Homo sapiens: one gene and its partners. The protein of the gene in region 1 interacts with the protein of each later gene in a biochemical or structural test. Each region holds a gene or a part of one and is shown on either strand. Other genes may lie near its edges.

What was found. The genes of interacting proteins can lie anywhere in the genome.
Region 2: the proteins of ASAP1 (region 1) and HCK form a complex in vitro, tested with the Homo sapiens proteins (one study listed by IntAct).
Region 3: the proteins of ASAP1 (region 1) and NPHP1 form a complex in vitro, tested with the Homo sapiens proteins (one study listed by IntAct).

Annotation. Positions count from the first base shown.
Region 1 is NC_000008.11:130,440,658-130,448,204, forward strand, and holds the start of ASAP1 (arf-GAP with SH3 domain, ANK repeat and PH domain-containing protein 1), read right to left. Parts: upstream 3,018-7,547; 5' UTR 2,803-3,017; intron 1-2,802. UniProt on the Homo sapiens protein: Possesses phosphatidylinositol 4,5-bisphosphate-dependent GTPase-activating protein activity for ARF1 (ADP ribosylation factor 1) and ARF5 and a lesser activity towards ARF6.
Region 2 is NC_000020.11:32,047,878-32,055,246, reverse strand, and holds the start of HCK (tyrosine-protein kinase HCK), read right to left. Parts: upstream 3,006-7,369; 5' UTR 2,823-3,005; coding exon 2,761-2,822; intron 1,032-2,760; exon of another isoform or gene 968-1,031; coding exon of another isoform or gene 966-967; intron 1-965. UniProt on the Homo sapiens protein: Non-receptor tyrosine-protein kinase found in hematopoietic cells that transmits signals from cell surface receptors and plays an important role in the regulation of innate immune responses, including neutrophil, monocyte, macrophage and mast cell functions, phagocytosis, cell survival and proliferation, cell adhesion and migration.
Region 3 is NC_000002.12:110,202,009-110,209,344, forward strand, and holds the start of NPHP1 (nephrocystin-1), read right to left. Parts: upstream 3,006-7,336; 5' UTR 2,961-3,005; coding exon 2,892-2,960; intron 1-2,891. UniProt on the Homo sapiens protein: Together with BCAR1 it may play a role in the control of epithelial cell polarity. Involved in the organization of apical junctions in kidney cells together with NPHP4 and RPGRIP1L/NPHP8. Does not seem to be strictly required for ciliogenesis.

The sequences.
Region 1 (7,547 bases):
CATTCCCCCCATCTCTCCCTTACACTCTAGCCCTGCCTTCCCTCACTCCTTGGAATACACCAAGCTCTTTTGTGCATAGTCAACTTTGCACATTCCCATCCCTCTGCCTGGAAGGCCCTCCCCTGCAATCTCTCTGCCTGGCCAGTTCCTTCTCCATTTTCCAATCTCAGAAAGGCTTTCCCTTCCAAAACTAGGACCAACTTGTGCCACCAGCCCCTACTTTGGTCCCAGGTTTGTTTCCTTGATAACAAGGAATCACTCATCTGTTAGAGGTTGTTTCTTCTGCTTCTTCCTTGTTGCTCATCTCCTCCAGAGGAATGCAAGCTCCAGAAGGGCAGTGCCAGGTCTATTTCGTCCACCACTGTATCATCAGGACTCCACACAGGGCTTAGCATGGCGCAGGTGCTCAATGCATGGTTGTTCAATTGATGAATTAAAAGAGAAAGTGTGAGGCTGACATTGAAAGATGAGGCTGGAAATAGAAGGCCTTGAGAACAGGGTCCTATTCATCTTTGCAGGACTGGCACCTCCCACAGGGAAGCCACTTAGCAAATGTTTCACTGGATGCATGAAAGAAAAACTCGATTCCAGATAAATCTGAGATGTGCTGTCCTTTCTGGGCAAGGCTCCCCAAGAAGTTTCCGCTCCTCCTTAGGACTTCTTAGGAGGTAACATGTCTAGGGCATACAGCAAGTGCTTAATAAATGGGGTGACTGTTACTATTGCTCACGTGGGGATCACTCATGCAGTCTCCTAGAAAAGACCTTCCGGAGCCCATGCCAGATACAGCAGTGGTTGGGTGAAAAAACGGCAGGGAAAAATGAGAACCGAGCAGCAGGATCCAAATACGGCTGAGACCTAGGTGGGGAAATGGCAGGAACAACACTGTCCTAGCTAACTGGGGTTCCCTTCTTTCCTCTAGACTTCAGTCACCTAGGTGCAGCATGGAGATGCCAGCTGGGACGTGAGTCTTCACAAGGGAGGGCTCAATCTGAATGCACACATTCATCTTTGGGCCTGCCAGGCTTGCACTGATTTTGAAAATCTGGCTCGCTGTGGCTGGTGAGGACTGGGGAGGTGTAGAGAATTTCAATTTCCCTCACCAAATGGCAAGCTTGCGAAAAGTCCTTTCTCTCCAACATTATCACATACTAAAAATGAAAAACCAGCCATTCAGAGCTCTCATGAGAAAAATAGATGGGCTGCTTAGCTCACAAGAAACAGGAGGGCTGAAAATCAAGTCTAGAGAACATCAGAGGGTACATTATGTGCTAAGATACTGCCCTTTTTTGGACCTGGGAGTTTCTATTTTGCACAAAAGAATGGGATAGGGAAAGTAATTCCCCGTATAATAAGCCACTCATTTTATACTTCAAATCCATTTGGTAGCTGAATCTCCAAATCCACTTAGTGGCGTTAGGTGATTTTTGTTTTTTTTAACTCCCTATCTCAAAATATGCAGTTTGAAATAAGTGCATATCTCAAAAATAGCAGCATTAACAGGACAGAAGAGAAGGCACTAAAGTGGTGAAGGCTGTGACGCAAAGAAGACGTTTCCAAATCTGTTTCATGGCTAACAGATCAAAATCTAACACAGAAGGGGCATGGGACTGAGCCTGAAGAAGTGGAAACTACTCCTGGCCATGTGATCTTGGGCAAGTCAGGTCACCTTTCTGGGCCTTCTCTGAAGGGGGTGAATCAGTTGTTCTCAAAGATCTTTTTCTTTCCAAACTGTTCACTGGGTGTTTCCAGAAGACCCGCATTTTCTTAAAGCTATCTGGCCGCGCTACAATTGCAAAACAGAAAGGCTTTGGGATGAAGGTTGCAATACAGATAACCCTGGCCTAAAAACTGATAAGCTTTTACAATCCCAAAACATTACTCAGCAATCCAGGTCCTGATGTCATCCCAGAATCAATCACGCCAAGATAACCTAACAGAGTAGACAGGGGAAAATGCGAGAGAAAGTTCTTTTGCTTTCCTGACGAGTACAGGTAAAGTTGAGGTCAAGTTAACGATGATGGTCTGCAGTTGACCATCCTTCTCCCTGAGCTACTGGAAAACCACATTATTAAAGGAAACTGCTTTAGAAGTGCCCAAGATGAACCTCTTGGGATGTATCAAACCGCAGAAAACCGGACACCGGCAAGTTTCTTTTTTCTTTGAAACTTCATGTCGCTCTCAGAAAACGCAGCAGGTCCCAAAATGGTACAAGCAGAAAACACAAGCCACTTCACGGTCCGCCCAGGAGCCAACCCCAAGCTCCAAGTAGGACTCCCCCCACCCCCTTCCCTTTCGTTTCTCTTCTTTTGCTTTAGGCAAGTGGCCTGGGGCCTGCCAAGCAGCGCCGGGTCCGGGTAGGGGCCGGGGGCCGCGGGGAACTTTCCTCGGCTGCACCAGAGACAATGCCGGGAGGGCGCCCCATCGGCGGGGTCCGGGCCGCCAAGCACGTCGTCCCGGGCCCTCCCCCGGAGGGGGACGCGAAACCCCCCAGGGCGGGCCCCGTCCCCGGCCCCACTGCAGGGGCCCCCTCTCCCGAGCTGGAGGCGAGGAGACCTCCCCCCCCCACCGGGCGGCCTCGCCCGGCCCCGCAGAGCCTGGCCGCGCGTCCCGCACACGCCCCAGCCCAGGGCCGGCGCCCTCCCCGCGGAGAAGGACACCCCGCTGCGAGAGGAGCCGGGAGCCCGCCCCGCGCCCCGTCCCGGCGCCCTTCTTCGCGCGAGAGACTGGGCAGGGGGCGCCCGCGACTGTGGGCGACTCCGCCCGGCCCCGCCGAGCGCGCCCGAGCGCCCCGCAACTCACCGGGACCTGGCGGGCCGCTGGGCATTATTCCATCGCGGGTTCGGCCGGGCGCTCGCGGCTCTCGGGTGGGAAAGCGAACTGCGACCGGGAAGCGCCGGCTGGGCGGGAGGCGCGGGCCCGGGGCTGCCCAGCGCACAGTGCTCGCCCGCGGCAGCGGCCAGGCCAGGCGAGGCGCGGGAGCCGAGCGCGGCGCAGGAAGGGGCGGGCGACCATGTGCCGAGGGGGAGGAGGCCGCGGCGACGCGAGCGGCTCGCACGATCCCGCTCGGCGGCGGAGGGCGCGGGTTTCAGGAAATCCAAACACTTCGACAGGAAATCGGAATCCTGACTAAGCATTCCCGGCCCCGAGCCGCTCCGCGCCGGGGGCTCCCGCCTCGCTTAACCCTTGGCCCGCCGGCAGCCACGAGGGGGGCGTGGGAGGGGCCCCAGACCTCGGCCGGGGTCGGGCGTCCTTCGCCTTCCGCCCCATGCCCCGGCCGGCCGGCCTCCTCCCCGCCTGAGGTGGAAGGGGTGGGATTTATCCACAGAAAACCCTGGACGCGGAAGGTGCCTTTCTAAGGCCGGGACAGCGGCAAAGGACGTGCCTGTCTTCCATCTGCAGAGGATGGACCTGCACTGTCCTGGCCGTTACCCCTATTTTCAGTAAAGGAATGATTTCACCAGGCTGCCCCCTTTCACCACTTCCTCTCTGCTCTTATAATTTTATTTTTGCCCAGTGCCAAGGGAACAGGACCTTCCCAGTCAGGATAGTATAGGAACAGTATGGAGAGTAATTGTGTGGGCTGCAGGCTCTGTGTCCGGTTGGAATATGGCCTTTTTTCTACTCATGTTACCTTGAGTAACTCGCTCAACTTTCCTGAGCCTCAGTTTCCATTTATGAAATGGATGTTAATTCCACCCTCATAGGTTTGATCTGGAAGCTGAATGTTTAGACAGGGACTGGCACATTGGAAACGCCCAAATAAATGATAGCCATGCTTGTCCTTATTATTACCATTAAAAGACATCAGAGAAAGGAGGATTTTAATTTGTGGGATGTATATTGTGCATATCTATGTCTACTTTCAAAGTCAGAGACAGTAGTCTTTCTTTAGAACTTAATTTCCCTCCTAATCATTGGGTGATTGTTTTTCTTTGCAGCATTTCAGAAACGGCTCTCTGCAGAGGAAATGGTTAGTGGCTGTGGCAGACCCCCTTCTGGTGAAATCCGAAACAGAAAACCTCACAAAATTTGGGATTTTGCTCCTAATCTGAGAGTCTGGGTGTAGTGGGGAGTGGGGGTTGTTAAACAGTCTGGAGCGGATTTACAAAGTTTGGGAAAACCAAAATCAATCTCTGACTGGGCAGAGAGGTCGGGCAGCCAATGAGTGATTCATTGTGGTTTCCCACGGAAATGCCACATTTCGGGGGTGTCTACCTGGAGGATGCAGCTTGGTGGTTTTGCTGTAAGTGTTTCAGATTCCTTTGAAACCCAATCAGACTTTGAAGAGGGAACAACATGCTCATGAGCGAAAACAGAAGCCTGAAATGAACCTGCTGGGAACTGAAAGTTGGGTACCAGCTCGTTTACTCCAAGTAAGGAACAGATACCAGTTTTAGACCCAGCATTGTTCCTTTTCTGCAATTCTCTCTCCGTGGCCAGAAGCAGTAGGACAGCTCTGAGCTGGGCACCAGGAGTCCCAGGGTCCTGCTCCAGGCCCACTGTAGCTGCCGTCCCCTCTGCCTGGAAGAACCCTTGTATGGCTGTTCTTGGCACGCAGCTCACAGCCCAGAAGTCAGCTCCGCAGATAGGTTTTCCCCAACCATGTGATCTGCTTGTCTCTGGCACCTACACCCCACCTCCACCTCTCCCAAACATAGCGCATCCTGTTTGATTGCTTCATAGCCCTTGTCACTGTTTAATGTAGCCTACATGATTGGTTGCTTATTTTTTATCTGCCCCCCACTCTCCCCACTGCATGGGTAAACTGCATTACAGCAGTACCTTTGCCTGTTTCCTTAGAACAGTGCTGGCCCATATGAGACCATCGATAAACACGTGTTGAATAAATGAAAGAAGCAAACAAACTAGAGTTGCAGATGGGACCTCTGCCTGAGGTAGGGTGGTTCACTCGGTCCCGCAGCTCCCTGTGGCTTCCTCTTTGGTGGAGAGATTCAAAAGGGAACGCCCAGTGCGGTGGAAGGAGCACCAGATGGCTCTATTAGTGCTTCTGGAAAACTAAAACTATAAGTAGGCCAGGCGCGGTGGCTCACGCCTGTAATCCCAGCACTTTGGGAGGCCGAGCAGGTAGATCACCTAAGGTCAGGAGTTTGAGACCAGTCTGGCCAACATGGTGAAACCCCGTGTCTACTAAAAATACAAAAAATTGCCGGGCGTGGTGGTGGGCACCTGTAATCCCAGCTTCTCCAGAGGCTGAGGCAGGAGAATCGCTTGAACCCGGGAGGCAGAGGTTGCAGTGAGCTGAGATCATGCCATTGCATCCCAGACAGGGTGACAGAGTGAGACTCCGTCTCAAAAAAAAAAAAAAAAAAAAAAAAAAAAAAAACCTAAGTAATTAAGACTGTCAAATGAGGTAACTATAGTCTCATTGGTATAGTCCCAGTTAATTACTCCCTCCTTTGTGCTTCCTTGGCATTTCTGTTTAAAGAATATATTTGTCATATTGTATACTCACTAGATGACTGTTCTCCTAAATCAGATGGAGGAAAGGAGTCCACATTTGTTGACCACTTGCTCTGAGTGGGTCCCTGAGCAAGGTGAACTTGAATTCATTTTAAGGCATCGGTTAAGTGCCTGTAATGTGCTAAAAAAATCTGGGCCCTACATGTGCAATGATGAAAAAGAACTATTCTTGCTAAGAAAGACAGGAAAGCTCTATCTAGTAAGCAGAGAGATAAGTACTCTTATAGAGTCATGTCCAGGGTATCCAGGGCTATTCAGAACATTGAAGGTGGAGTAGGGTGGAGATAAGTTGGAAAATGCTTCCAAGAAGTGGGTGCTCTTGAACGAACTTTCAAGGAGGAGATGGGACCTATGTAGCTAGATAAGGGGGCACAGGCCTGCCAACCAGAGTAACAAGCGTGAGTGTTAGTGATGCTCGGCTCCATGTCCCCTGGGCCCACCTCTGAGCTCACCGGCAGCTGCAATGAGCTGCCCTCTGTACAGAGAAACTGTCTATCCAAAGCAGGCCCCCTTTCTCCTCTCTACCAGGAGGCTTTCTCAAGGGCTGTGGGATCTTGCCTAGCCTGGAAGTTTCCAACAGCCCTGGGTCAGTCCTTAACCAAACAGTGGATGAATGTGTCAGCCTCCCCTTCCCTAAGGAAGATCAATTCTCAAATGCTCTCAAGGCAGTTCCTCAGAGGAATTCCCCAGTAGGAATGAGTCCAGTTGCCCCCAGCAGTCACTCCCTCATTAAGTCACTCTTTGATTTTGCCTCTTCTCCCTTCCTTGCCTTACTTTCTCACTTCCTTATTTGTTCTTGGGATCCCAAATAAAGTAACTGCACCCATCTCCTTGTCTCAAGGTATACTTCTGGGGAAACCCAATCCAGAGTAGTGTTCATGCATATATTCACAGATACTGGCTGGGCACTCCCAAGTGCCTGAGTAAAGACTGAGCATGAACACATAATATATGTGGGTGACTCTACCAGGTTCAGCATGATCTGAGAACATGATGCATGTTCAGACATGGAAAACAATGAGACTAAAAAGCCTTACACCATCTTGCAGTTGAGGAAACTGAGGCACAGGAGTGTTGAGTAACTTGCCCAAGGCCAACCACTAGTGAGTAGAGGAGTGTATTAGTCCATTTTCAGGCTTCTGATAAAGACATACGTGAGACTGGGAAATTTACAAAAGAAAGACATTTAATTGGACTTACAGTTCCACGCAGCTGGGGAAGCCTTACAATCACAGCAGAAGACAAGGAGGAGCAAGTCATGTCTTACGTGGATGGCAGCAGGCAAAGAGAGAGAGAGTTTGTGCAGGGGAATGCATATGGGAATTCAAGATGAAATTTGGGTGGGGACACAGCCAAACCATATCAAGGAGCATTGGAGTCCAGGCTCTTCACCACCCTGCACTGTCTTTCTTGCCAGTTCAAGCTGTTGGGAGAGTGAATAATGAGAAGAAGAGAACCAGAGGAGAACCAGGGGGCATGGGAAGAAATTGCTTTTACAAGGAAGGAATGAGCAACATTCACAAATGTCACAGGAAATTTCATCAAGAAAGGACCAGAAAGCAAGTGTTCATTTCATTTGACAATGAGAAGGCTGATAACTTTTACCAGAGCTGTCTCGATGGAGTGGAGGGATTGGAAGCCAGATTGCGGTGGGTTGAGGACGGAGTGGGAGACAGTAAGCGTGGACAACTCTTTTCAGAAATGTAGCTGTCTAGCAAGTGGGAGGTAAGGGTAGAGGCTTCTTTAAAAATGTGTGGGCAGGCAAGCATCTGGGTTGGTAGGTGAGGTTGAGAGGAAGGGATGGTTCATTGATAGAACAGGTACTGAGGATGAGAGGAGATGGGAACTAGAGTGGGTTGGGGGCACGAACCCTGGACTGGAAGAGGCCACCTTGTCTGCTGAAGGAGAGGGCCGAAGGGCAAGGTGCAGAACTCTAAAGTTCCACCATGAACATCCTGAAGTCACAGACCAGGAGCTAGGTGGGTATCTTGAGTTTAGACCCCTGAGTTTAATTCCTTATGAAAATCATGCTCTGGGCTAGGCAAGGTGGCTCATGCCTGTAA
Region 2 (7,369 bases), on another chromosome or scaffold:
CATTCTTCTCTCTTCTCTGCCCCAGAGTCCCTGGTGACCCTTCTGGGCTACAGTACTCCTCTCACACAAAGGGGAGTGTGACAGGTGCCCTCTCTGGGGAGCCATCCAGCCTTTTGGTGTTTTCCTCAAGAACCACCTGTACATGGGCCGAAAGCTACACATCCAGGATGCTCCTGTCAATATTGTTCGTTGTAGTGAACGCCTAGGAACAACTTGAGTATTTATCCACAGGGGAAAGAGAAATACTGTAGAGTCGTTACCTGCTGGGATACTCCACAGCAGCTGGAAGGAATGAATGAGGCCTCTATTTTCTATTTCTCATCCTGGGTAGATTTTGACAACTTAATGATAAGATGGGGCAAATATGCTCCTCTGCTATCCCCATTGTCAGAATTGCAGAAAAGTCTCACAATTAGATAGTTTTTTGTTTTGTTTTGTTTTGAGACGGAGTCTCGCTCTGTGGCCCAGGCTAGAGTGCAGTGGCACGATCTCGGCTCACTGCAAGCTCCACCTCCAGGGTTCACGCCATTCTCCTGCCTCAGCCTCCCCAGTAGCTGGGACTACAGGCGCCCGCCACCATGCCCGGCTAATTTTTTGTATTTTTAGTAGAGACGGGGTTTCCCCGTGTTAGCCAGGATGGTCTCGATCTCCTGACCTCGTGATCCGCCCGGCTCAGCCTCCCAAAGTGCTGGGATTACAGGCGTGAGCCCCCGCGTCCGGGCTTTTTTTTTTTTTTTTTTTTTTTTTTTTTTTTTTTTTTTTTTTTTTTTTAGGTGGAGTTTCGCTTTTGTTGTCCAGGCTGGAGTGCAATGGCGCGATCTCGGCTCACTGCGACTTCTGCTTCCCCGGGTTCAAGCGATTCTCCTGCCTCAGCCTCCCGAGTAGCTGGGATTACAGGCATGAACCACTGCATAGATAGCATTTTTAAAGCACACAAAACAATCCTACGTGTTGTTTATGCGTACATTTATATGCAATCCATTTTCAGAGGCACATCCTGGAAGGACTGTAACTCATGACAGCGGTTGCCCCTGGGGAGGGAGAGAAACAGGACTGAGAGTGATACAAGGTGGGGAGACTTCAATTTTTTCTGTTACTTTTAGTAAATTAATTTTTTAAAATCTCAAAACAAACACAACAAAATGCTATTATTTGTTAATTCTGGATGGTGGATTCTCGGGACATCTAATATATTATTATCTTCACTTTTCTGTATTTTAACCTGTCACCCCCTCCCCTAAAAAAAAAAGGACCATAAAGAGAAAACCATGGGATAAGGCAACTGATAGGCATTGAGGCCTTTCTCTGTGCCAGGCATAGGCTACCCCAGTGGTTCTCAAAGTGTCCTCCTTGGATCAGCAGCAGCAGCATCACCGGGGATGGAAGTTCTCATTGTCCTGCACAGAGCTACTGAATCAGAAACTCTAGGATTCGGCCCAGCAATCTGTTTTCACAAGCAGTCCAGGTGATGCTGATGTAGGCTAAAGTCTGAGAACACGGGGCCATATGTCTAGCTAGGGCAATGTTAACATACATTAAGCCTGTGTACTGTCAGACAGCATTCTCAAAGCTTTCCTTCAGTAACTTTTTTTTTTTTTTTTTTTTTTTTGAGACAGAGTCTCTCTCTGTCGCCCAGGCTGGAGTGCAGTGGCGCGATCTCGGCTCACCGCAACCTCCACCTCCCAGGTTCAAGTGATTCTCGTGCCTCAGCCTCCCGAGTAGCTGGGATTAAAGGTGTGTGCTACTACGCCCGGCTAATTTTTGTACTTTTAGTAGAGACGGGGTTTCACCATGTTGGCCAGGCTGGTCTCAAACTCTAGACCTCAAGAGATCCACCTGCCTCGGCCTCCCAAAAAGCTGAGATTACAGGCGTGTGCCACCCTGCCCGGCCCCTTCAGTACCCAATTAATCCTCTAAACAACCCTGTGAAGGAGGTACTATTACTCTCCCCATCCTGCAGTTGTGAAAACAGAGGCAAAGAAAGGCCAAATCCTCTACCCCAGCCCCAACAGGCAGTTTGCCCCTAGAAGCCCCCTCCGCTACCCACTAGCCTGTCTCTCACACGCACCACCTCTCGCATACTCCAATTTCCTGCATCCTTGCAAGAAAGACTTCATAGCCCCGTTTTACAGATGAGGAAACGAATTCGGAGGCGGAGAATTCGTCCAAGGAGGAAAGAGACAGGGCATGCATGCAGTGTGGTCTGGGGCCAGGAGGTTTGGGGGTTTGACCTAGACCTGTTGTGGGAGGAGGGGCAGAGAGCCGACCAGCTGCAGCCGGCCTGGGTGTGGCTCGCACGTCACGCCTCCGCCCAACTACCCCCTTCCCCAAGCTGGCTGCCAACCCGGCGTGACCCGGCCCCCACCGGGAACCGTAAGGGCCTTCCCCTTCCCGGGTTCTGTGAAGCCCCATCCCTTCCTTCTTTTTCTTTTTTAAATTAAAAAAAAAATCCCCGCCCCCCCCCAAGAAGGGGAACCTGGACGGCCCAGAGAAGTGGTGGATAAAGTCACTGCACGGGCCCGAGCGTCCCCTTCCCCGGGAATCCAGCAGTCCGCAACAGTGCCGCCCCTCCCTAGGGCACCCTCCACTCGCTGTCGACCCCTCATCCCCCGGGCTACCCGCGGCTCCCCCGACGTTCCGTCTCCCCTCGCTGCCCCCAGCCGCACCCGTAGCCAGCCCTCCCCAGGCTCCTGGGCTCCCTCCGCCTCCTGGGACCCCTCGCGGGCCGGGTATTCCCGGTCCCCTGTGCGCGGCACTCACCTGGGCGCCCGCTCCTCGTCTCGCGGGCAGCCCGGATCCTCGCAGCTTGAGCGCCCCCCCAGCTCGGCAGCCCCTGAGGTTCCGGGGTGCCAGTGCCGGGAAACTGACTTTCTAGAACTAGAGGCGGGGGCGACGCTCTGAGGGGCTTTGGTGCCGCGGGCGTTTCTCGTCCTGCACTGTCTGAGTCCCTTCCCACTCGCCTCTAAGCCTCTGATGTGCTCCCGAGCTGGGACCAGGGACGTGGTGGCGCCCGCAGGCCATCTGGGCGCCTTAGCCGCGCCCTGAGCGAGGCTAACTCCGCCCCAAGTGTCCTAACACCTCCCCGAAGATTCAGACGCCACCCCAGGATCCTAACCGGCTCCCCGAGGGTCATAACCTCCGTCTCCTGCAAGAAGGATCCCAAACCCTCCACGAAGAGAAAAAAAATATTAGCACCATCCATAGGAGGCTTCTAACGCGTCCACCAAGGATGCGAACCCCCATCCCTTCCGCTCCACTTTCCCTAACACCTCCCCATCCCACCGCCCAGCGTCCTACCCCAGTCTCCAAAGGATCCCAAATCCCACTCCTAGGGATTCGAACCCGCCCGTCTAAGAACCCCAGCACCCGCTCCAAGGCTCCCAAGATACTAACCCCGCCCCGCCAAAGGATTTTTAATCCCACCTCTGAAGGATTTTTAAACTCAACTTGCCCCCAAAGATTCTAATCTGCCCAGTGGAAGGATCCGAACTCTCACTTCAGTGGATTCTAACCCTGCCCTAAGATTTAGAACACAAACCCCAGGGTTCCAATACCGCTCCTGCTCCTGCGCGATCTAACCTCCCGCCGCCTAAGAGTTTTAATACCCAGGGGTCTATACCGCCGGTCCAAAGATTCCAACCCTGCCCTTCAGAGATCCTAACCCCACCTATCAAGGGATTCCTGCCACAGTCTTCAAAGATTCCAACCCACCCTGGAAAGGCCTTACCCTACCCCGGAAGCATCGTGATCTCTTTTCCCCACCACTCCGACCCCTCCCTTCTGGCCCGGCCCTCCCCAACTCCGCGGCCCGAGACTTCCAGGCAGGTCTGTGGTCAGCGGTTTCTCTTCCGCAGGCCTGCTCCATTCAGACACCATGCAAAGTTCCTCTCTCGAAGGAACCACCATGGCCATGCAAAGTTCCCTGCCCGAAGGAACCACCCTGGCTTCCTGGCAGCTCAGAGGACTCCCAAGCTGGGGGAGGTGGTCGGGGGAGGGGAGGAGTCGGGCTGGAGGGTGACTGAGGCCCCAAGTGGATGGGATTGTGCCCAGCTCCAGGCAAGGGCAGAACACACCCTCTCCTGGAAAAGACAGGGGCTATCACCCTAAATGCTGTGTAACACACCTCCAAAATCTCCAAAACTACAAGAATTCTACCGCGTCTCTCTATTCCCGTTGCTACCAGCTGATCAGGACCACAGTCATTTCTTCATTCATTCATTCATAATTCATTCAGCAAAGCTGTCCTGGGGGCTGGGGAATGCAGGGGTTCTTAAATTTGGCACTATTGACATTTGGGCCAGGTAATTCTTTGTTGCGGGGGACTGTCCTGTGAATGATAGGATGTTTAACAGCATTCCTGGGCTCTACCCACTAGTTGTCTATAGCATCCTCCTCCCTAGTTGTGACAACAAAATGTCTCCAGACATTTGTAAAATGTCCCCTGGTGGGGAAGGGGGGAAGAACCATGAATGAGAAAGACAATGACCCTACTCTTATGTTTTTGGTATATGTACCTGTATGGGCCTTTTTTCCTTCTCTTTAGCCTACAGTGCTAACTATTTTGAGGGGGTCTCCCATCCAAGTACTAACCAGGCTTGATCCTGCTTAGCTTCCAAGATCAGACAAGATCAGATGTGTTCGGTGTGGTATGGCATAGACAACTTAAAAAAAAATAGAGATGGGGTCTTGCTGTATTGCCCAGGCTAGTCTTGAACTCCGGGGCTCAACTGAACCTCCTGCCTTGGCCTCCCAAAGTACTGGGATTATAGGTGTGAGTCATTGCACCTAGTCTGTATGTGCTTTTTATAAAAACAGATAATGTTCTGAATGTATGTTTAATGTTACTTATTCACTTTTGTACATTCCCTCCCGCCACCCCCATCACTGTTGTTAATATCCAGCCATGTTGCCAAAGGTAGCGGCTGTACGTGTAGTCACTGTTTACATCCTTCACATTTTATTTATCCATTCTCCTAGTCATGGACACCTAGATTGCACACAATTTCCCACTAGTGTAAATAGTGCCACAGTGGACATCCTCATACACGTCCCCTTATCGTCCTACATTAGAATTTTGTTAAGTACTTGCTTTGCCAAGAATGACAGGTGTTTGCAGAATCGCCACTGCCCCACTCTTTCTCCCATCATTTCCCCTTATCTTTACCAACCCTTGGTATTATCCACTGGTCTTAATTTGAGTTCCCCAGAAGCAGACCCTGGACATGGATCCAAGTGAAAATAGTTTATTTAGGAGATGCAGAAGACACTGGTAGGGGAGTAGGTGGATGAGACAGGGAAGGGAGGGAAGCCAGTAAAAAGGAATATCATGAAGCCAGTTACCATTGTGGGCAACTGGAGTTCAATTCTGCAGGGATCTCTGGAGATATACCCACTTCAGGGTTACTCCACCTGTCAGGCGAGGGAGCTGGGGCATTTACACACCAACTCCTGTTGGACACCGGATGAGGGGTACTCCAGGGGTACTGACCTTCCAGCATTTTGGCCTCCCTGGTGCATGCTTCAGCCACCAGAGGGTCTCCAGGAAGAGAAGTGCAGCTCTTACTTAAGGCCCAGGGGGCATCGGAGGGTCCGCATTAGCATCAGCTACATCTCCTTTCAAAAGTTTGCCATTCTGATAGTAAAGAGCCAGAGAGCTGACACATGTTCCTGTTCATGGACAGTTTCCCAAATGTTTTGTCCTGACAGTAATGCTGTAATTGAAATCCTTGTGTATGTTCCCAAAGCTTCTGTCAACTTTATCGTGACATAATTTCGTGAATAAAATCTACCATCATAAATATTCAGCTTGATGAGTTTTGGCAAATATATATACCTGTGTAACCACCACCCCAATCAAGATATAGAACATTTCTATCACCCCAAAAAGTTCCCTTATGTCCTATTGCAGTCAACTCCTCCCACACTTAGGTAGCCTTAGGTAAGCACCAATTGGCTTTTTGCCATTATACATTAGCTTTGTCTTTTCTAGAATTTCTCATAAATGCAGTCATACAGTATGTTTCTTTTGTGTTTGTCTTCTTTTACTCAGAGATTTTCCATGTTGTTGCATGTTCCAGTAGTTCGTTCATTTTTACTGCTGAGTAGTATTCCATAGTATAGATGTAACACTATTTGTTTATCCATTTATTTGTTGAGAGACATTTGGGTTGTTTTCAATTTGGGGCTATATAAATAAAGCTGCTATAAATATTTATGTACAAGTTTTTGTGTAGGCATATTTTTATTTCTCTCGGGTAAATACTTAGGATTGGAATTGCTGGGTCATATAGCAAGTGTGTGTCTAACTTGCAATAAATTGCTGAATTGTTTTTCTTTTTTTTTTTTTTTTGAGGCAGGGTCTTGCTCTGTCACCCAGGCTGGAGTGCAATGGCGAGATCTTGGCTCATTTTAACCTCTGTCTCCTGAGCTCAAGTGATCCTCCCACCTCAGCCTCTGAGTAGCTGGGACTACAGGTACACCACCATGCCCAGCTTATTTTTTTTTTTTTTGTAGAGATACAGTCTCACCGTGTTGCCCAGGCTGGTCTTGAACTCCTGTGCTCAAGCCATCTGCCTGCCTCAGCCTCCCAAAGTGCTGGGATTACAGGTGTGAGCCTTTGTGCCTGGTCTAAATTGGTTTTTGAAGTGGTTACACCATTTTGCATTCCCTCCAGTGATTTATGATTTCCAATTGCTCCACATCCTTGCCAACATTTGGCATTATCATTCTTTTCAATTAAAAAAAGTTCCCATCTAACCCATATTTGCACCAAATAACATTTATACAATTACAAATTGTATTCTAAAACACCCCCTTACCAGTCTTTGGGGGTGGCAAACATTTTGTCTACTCAATTATTCATTCATTCATTGTCATGGAGACTATAGCTGACCACAAAAGTGGTGCTAAGGGCCAGGTGTGGTGGCTTACACCTGTAATCCCAGGACATTGGGAGGCCAAGGTGGGCAGATCACCTGAGGTCAGGAGTTCGAGACCAGCCTGGCCAACATGGTGAAACTCCGTCTCTACTAAAAATACAAAAATTAGCCGGGTGTGGTAGTGGGTGCCTGTAATCCCAGCTACTTGGGAGGCTGAGGCAGGAGAATTGCTTGAACCTGGGAGACGGAGGCTGCAGACAGCCGAGATCGTACCACTGTACTCCAGCCTGGGGGACAAAGCAAAACTCCTCAAAAAAAAACAAAAACAAAAACAAAAACAAAAACAAAAGACTGGTGCTAAATGCTCCATCGTAGGAGTCCAACTAGAGTTCAAACCTGGCACTGCTGTTATCAACTGGGTAATGTTGTACAAAGAGGTGACTTGATTGTCACCTCTTTGAGTCTCAGTTTCCTCATCTGTCAAGTCGGAA
Region 3 (7,336 bases), on another chromosome or scaffold:
CTTGAAATTTTATATAAATGGACTCATACAGTAAGCACTCTTGTGTAACCTTTCCACAAAGCATGTTTTTGAGATACTTCCATATTGTTGTGTGTACCATTAGTTCATTCCTTCTCATTACTGAGTGGTATCCATTGTATTGAATGTATCATGACTTTGTTTCTCTTGACTTAGTAGTTTGTTTACTAACACTATATGTAACTTTGTCAATATACTCTCCAAAAAGGCACATACTTCTTTGGTCTGTTTTCTATAGATTACGTAGAGAAGATAAAGTGGATGAAAAAAGAGAAAATTCCATTAGTTTCTTCTCTACTCTTGCAATTTGGCATCCATCTGAGTGTTATTTACAAAATTCACACACCTAGTGATAGAGCCAGTCATCACAGGCCTGACTCAGAGGGGCTGTTGATTACTTGTCCTACAGACACCGAATAGAAAATCTGTTCCATATTCAGCTTCAGGTGTCCTCTGTGAAGACAGGGAAGAATTAGCTAATACTATCAAAACAAACTTTCCAGATAGTCAAGGTATCAAAAGGCTCCAGAGCCAATATTTCTCCAGGGAGAATAATCTTTCTAATAGTTTGTTTTAATAATCATTTTTATAGTTTCCTTCTAAAACTTTTCCTGGTTCTCCTAATGTCCCACTAAATTTAAAATTAACTCATCATGACTAATCATCAGAGAAATGCAAATTAAAACTACAATGAGGTACCATCTCACACTGGTCAAAATGGCTATTATTAAAAAATCAAGAAATGACAGATTCTGGTGAGGCTGACAAGAAAAGAGTACACATATACACTGTTGGTGGGCATGAAAATTAGTTCAGCCACTGTGGAAAGCAGTTTGGAGATTTCCCAAACAACGTAAAACAGAACTATCATTTGACCCAGAAATCCCATTTCCGTGTATATACCCCCAAAAAAGAAATGATTCTACCAAAATGTCACATGCATGTGTATGTTCCCTACAGCACTATTCACAATAGCAAAGACATGGAATCAACATAGATGCCCACCAATGGTGGACTGGATAAAGAAAATGTGGTACATATACACCATGAAAAAATATGCAACCATAAAAAAGAATGAAATCATGTCCTTTGCAGCAACATGGATGGAGCTGGAGGCCATTGTCCTAAGTGAATTAGCATAGGAACAGAAAACCAAATACCATATGTTCTCACTCGTTGAGTACACATGGACATAAAGATGGGAGCAATGGACACTGGTGACTGCTGGAGTGGGGTGGGGGAGGGAAGAGGAATGAAGACTGAAAGACTGCCTATTGGGTACTGTGCTCACTGCTTGTGTGATAGGCTCATCTGTACCCCAAACCTCAGCATAACACAGTGTTCCCATGTGACAGACCTGCACATGTACCCCCTGAATCTAAAATAAAAGTTGAAATTTTAAAATAAGACACAGAACCATATTAAGATCCACCGAAGTTCAGCATAAGTCAATGCCCCATCAAGTTTTATTTTTTATTTCTACCAGAAGAGTATTTAGCTTTTGTTGCACCACTGTGATTCCAATACACAGTCACCTAAATATTTACCTTCCAAATCCTTTTTACTTTAAACAAGAGAACAAAAATGGATAAAATATGAGCATCAGTGAATCTCTTACCGGCCTCAGATTATAAAATAATTTTACTCAGTGGAAAAATACTTGGTAATAGATCACATGAAAAAAATTAAAGTGAAATTAAAATGTCAGAAAATAAACCCACTGGTTGCTATTTACTTTTTTCTTATTTTTAATAAGAACTCAGTGTATTTTTAAAAAGTTTTTTTTTTTTTGAGACCAAGTCTTGTTATGTTGCCCAGGCTAGTCTCGAACTCCTGGGCTCAGGTGATCCTCCTGTCTCAGCCTCCCAAGTAGCTGGTACTACTAGCATGAGCCACCACACCTGGCCTAAAAATTTTTATAAATATGAAAAAGAATAAAGAAAATCATAATAATCATCAGCATCCTGTCACACAGAAATACCATATTAGCCTGTTCCCTTCTATGCTGTTCTGTGTATATTATATAAGTAACAATGTGATGAATACTTTTATACATCAATCTCTGTCCTACTTTCTAATTATTACACATAGCAGATCCCTGGAAATGTAATTTTTGAGCCTAGGTGCATACACATATGTTACACCTTGTCAAGCTGCTTTCCTGAAATGCTGTACAAGCACCTTATACACGGGAGCAGTGAATGTGCCTGCTTCATCACACCTTCCTCAAGACAGAGTGTTGTGATTTTTAACATTTTTGTGATACCTTATGTGCTTTGCAATTACTTGAGTATCTTTGAAGTTAACATTCCTCGTATGTTTATGAGTTACTTGTATTTCCTCTCTCGTTCACCTCCTTTGCTCATTTATCAGATCTTAATGTTCTTGCATATTAAGACTATTTCTTGACACCTATTTCGCTTGAGTTCACGGAGGCAATAATAATCTCCACTTGAGGAAGGCTGAAAGGAAATGGGCTTGGAAAGTGGAGGAGAGGAGCTAGGCTCAGAGTTGGGTTGGAAATGGTTACACCACTAAGTTTAGATTGGGAGATAAGGTGGGTTAGTGAGTTGTTAGGGTAGGAGGTTGAGACGTTAGGTGGGAGTGAGGGTCGGAGGAGGGGGCGCTTAGTTGATGGTCACGAATTTTGGGAGGTTTCGCCTTTGGCTGGGGGTTGAGTTGGGATCAGGAGGGGTTTGAATCGGGGTTGGGTGCTGGAATGTTATGGGGTAAGGGGGCGTTACAACCTGGGAAGGTAAGTAGGTTGGGGGCAAGCTCCCAGGATTAGGTGGGGTCACGGTGGGAAGGCGCAGTGCGCGCAGCTGCGTCCGCCTGTCGCCCGCCCCAGGGCCCTCTGCACAGCCTGACCATACCTGTTGCTTCAGCTCCTGATTGCGGCGCCGCAGGGCCTGGAGAGGATCTCGCTGTCGTCTCGCCAGCATCTCCCTGGCTGCGGTGCTCTGATTGCTCCAGTTGCCAGGGAAACCAACCGGCGGCGCCAGAAGGTGACGCCATCGATGTGCGCCCGCCTCCCAGCCCCGCCCCGCCCGGGCCGGTCCCGGGAAGGGTCAAATGTTCTCTTGCGGTGGTCATCCCACGCCACCAGGCAGGTCACAGCCGGGGGAGTCACTTTTCCTCGGCAATTCCTAAGGATAGGGGAACGTCCCCCGGCGTCTGAAACTACATTCCCCACAATACATCAATAATAACACCACCTTCTTGCTGGGATACCTGTTTTATGGCATTTGCTTTCTGATACCAATTTTGTAAGCTAATGTTAAGATACAATTTTAGTATCTTAAACTCTTTCATTAACTCCAAGGATAGCTTTCCTATGGAATATATGGTTCTGTTCCATACTGTCACTTCAAAAGGCAGTTTTTAATTCTTTGCCATTTAGGCTACTGAAGTTTCATTTCATTCTAATATTGCACGTTGTCAATTCTGAATTCTGTAAGGATGGTAATTGTTCTACAGCAAATCTATGAGCAAATTATTAGTTCTCATTATGATTCCCAGTTTACATCAACTCTCAGGAAGGTTGTCATGTTTCCCCCATATGGGACTGCATCCCATGAATCCAATTCCAAAACTCCACTACACCAAAATTGAACTTGAATAAGAATGATGATGCTTGGGGCTCACCTTCCAAATGATGGACCCCATTAATACAAATGAATGTTCTTCAGAACAGCCACAGGCCAGGATGAACCATTATTTATGTACTTTTTTCTTCAAGTATAATACATACAGAGAAAAGTCTACAGACTTTGTGTGCAGCTCTGAAAACCCTCCACCCCATAACAGCACCCAGATTATGAAACAGAACATTATCTGCCCACTCACACTCTTCCTGTCTTTCTAGTCCTTGCCTACCCCCAACCTCTCAACCCTCTCACTTCTCTACCACACACCAAAGGTGAACAATATCCTAACTTATAAGAGCACAAACTTGTGTTGCCTTTTTTTGTACTATACAATGAAATTATGCACTGTGTGGTGGCTTCTCCTGTCCTTTAAATATCACATTTGTGAGATGCATCTATACTGTGTGTGTCTGTAGTCTGTTCATTCTCATTGCTGATATTTCACATATGATATACCCTAACATACTGATTCTACTGTTGCTGGGTAAGTGGGCAGTTTCCAGCTTAGGGCTAGTATAAATAGCGCTGCTAAGAACGTCCTGGTGCAAGTCTTCTGGCAAACACATAACACTGCTGAGTCACAGGCATGTTATACGTCAGCTTTAGTAGATACTACTACCTGGTTTCCCAAAATGGTACTAATTTATACCCTATCAGCAGTGTATGAGTTTTTGTTCTTTATGTCCTTGGCAAGATTTGGTATTGTCTGTTTTGTTGTAATTCATGTCTTATTTTGAATTAATTTCTCTATTATGGCTTATGATAATTAGTTCACTTAAATAGTCAAACATAGGATTTCCATTAAAAATCTTTACAACAAATGAGAAAATGCTATAAAATATTTCTAAGTGGATTATTAAATCAATAATTACAGGTGATGAGATGAGCAAAACGAAAAAAATTGCTCTAAAATACAGCTATTACTTATGAAATTCTCAGTCTACAAATAAATTAGAAAAAATTATTCTGCATCTACTTATTTATAGGGATTTCCACATTTTAAATGGAAAAGTTAATAGCATCATGGATACAGTTTAATTCTGTTGGTAAAAATAAACTAATAACCCCCCCTAAATATGTGTGAATATATGAACAATAAGGAAAGGTGCAAAAAAAGTGTATTACTCATTCACCTCAGGTGTGAAGATGTTTGACTTTATACATTTTTGCATCATATTGTTTCGGTTACAAGTATTCATTACTTGCGATTCCTAGATCAGCATCATCACCACCTGGGACCTTGTTAGAAATGCACATTTTCACATTTTCAGCCCCACCACAGTCCTAGGAGAATCAGAATCTGTATTTTAACAATACCCCAGTGTTTCATGTGCACATTCAAGTTTGAGAAGTACCACTGAGGTATTCAGTGTGCTATAAATGATATGATTACTCAGCTAATGATTTTTCACTAATAACTGTAATATTCAGGACAGTCACATTAATACTAGTCATTGCTCCTCTGTAGTTATACCTTGATGCCATTATAAAAAACAACATAACCTAAAACAAGAGAGATCTGCAGTGAGGTAGCCAAAAGAAACTAAAGCAAACCATGGCCAATGTTTCTCCTGAGAGCAAGCTACTTCATAAAACTCATCATGATTTCTATCAGTGTGTTAAAATGAGTAACAATTTTGAATTGCTTCCTCACAGGTCATACTGAAAAAGAATTTAACAGCTTCCAAGAGACTCATAATGTAGACAGAACCAGTGGAACAAGACGACTTGGAATCAATAAAAAGATTATAGCAAAGAGAATAGAGAAAGTGTGCAGTTTTAGGGCCTTAAAAGAAAATTCAGGCTGGGCACGGTGGCTCACGCCTGTAATCCCAACACTTTGGGGAGCCGAGGTGGGTGGATCACCTGAGGTCAGGAGTTTGAGACCAGCCTGGCCAACATGGCGAAACCCTGTCTCTACTAAAAATACAAAAATTAGCCAAGTGTGTTGGCACATGCCTGTAATCCCAGCTACTCAGGAGGCTGAGGCAGGAGAATCACTTGAACCTGGGAGGTGAAGGTTCCAGTGAGCTGAGATCACACCAGTGCACTCCAGCCTGGGCAACAGAGTGAGACTGTGTCTCAAAAAAAAAAAAAAAAAAAAAAAAAAGAAAGAAAGAAAGAAAGAAAAGAAAAGAAAAGAAAACAATCCACCTCAAATAAAAATGACAAATATATACCTTGGTGCAAGGCACTGTTTAGGCCTGTGGTACAAGATGTTTAATACTGCTCTCAAAGAGCTTCCAAGCTACAGTAATAGACTAGAAACATGAAAATTGTACCAACCACTTACCACAGAAGTGCTACCTGGTGTACAGAATTCCCCGCCAAATGAACAGCTTATGATTAAATACACTGAGCTCTACAGTAAGGTCATGCATTGAATATGTCCACTAGACAGCTGAAAGGGTGAAGCTGGAATTGAAGGAAAGGATCAGAGGGAGGGGGCTCTGCTTGGATGTGCTAGTTAAGCCAAGAGAATGGCTAGGGTAATCACAGGAGAGGACAGGGCAGAGAACCAAGGCAAAAGTTTGAGGAACTTGAGAAAGGCAGCAATAGTAGCAGTTTGGAAACTCAATAAACTTTTGTATTAGAGAAGCAAGGGAAGGAGAATTTCAAGGGACAAAGTGGCCTCATCAAATACCCTCAAGGTAAAATGTGAGGATTCAGAAGAGCCATAGATATTAATGTTTCTGGAAGGTGCAGAGGGCAGATCACAGCAGACCAATGGGCAAAATATTTGGAAAGAAAATATTGGCAAATGATAACATCAACTAAAATAAATTTTAAGTCAAAATCCATGCATTTGTTAGCCAGGCATGGTGGCAGGCACCTGTTATCCCAGCTACTCGGGGAGGCTGAGGCACAAGAATCGCTTGAACCCGGGAGGCACAGGTTGCAGTGAGCCAACATCACACCACTGCACTCCAGCCTGGGGGACAGAGTGAGACTCCGTCTCAAAAAAAAAAAAAAAAAAAAAAAGAAAAGAAAAAATATGCATTTGTAAATAGAAAGCAGGCAGAGACTGCAGACGCAACAGAGATGATGTACTGGAGAACAAGAAAGGTCCTGAGGGAGATGCAGAATTCTGCAGAGGCCAAAGAGGAGACAGCCTTGGAAAGGGCCCGTGTGTCTTCTCTCCTGGTAAAGGAAACCTAATGAGACAGAGCTTCAAAAACAGTAGTTTTCAACCTCAGGTGACCATCACAATCACCTGAAGAACTAAAAATTCTAATACCCAGGCCATATTCCAAATGACATGAATCAAAATGTCTGGACAGTGGCATGCAAGAATTAGTATTTTTAAAGCTCCCTAGATGATTATAATGTGTAGCCCTGTTGAAAACTACTGCTCTAGACAAAACTATTGAGTAGGATGAAGGAATTCCCAGCTAACAGCCTTTATCTTCTCATATGGTTGATCTACTAGGAATGAAAGGCATCAAGAAAACTGGGAGTTTCAGGAACTCAGGTGCTAAGAAATGAGACAGATGCAGTCACAATAGAACGAATTTGTAGTGAGCCAAGTGAGAAAGGTGAAGTCTTTCTTTCAAGTTCAGTGGCTCAAAAGAGCAAAAGCAGTGGTGAAGGTAAATGTACAAGAAGGGATGGAGTCTAATCTGACCAGGGAGCCCAGGATGACTTATGAGGTTAACTGGAAGGGTGAGACA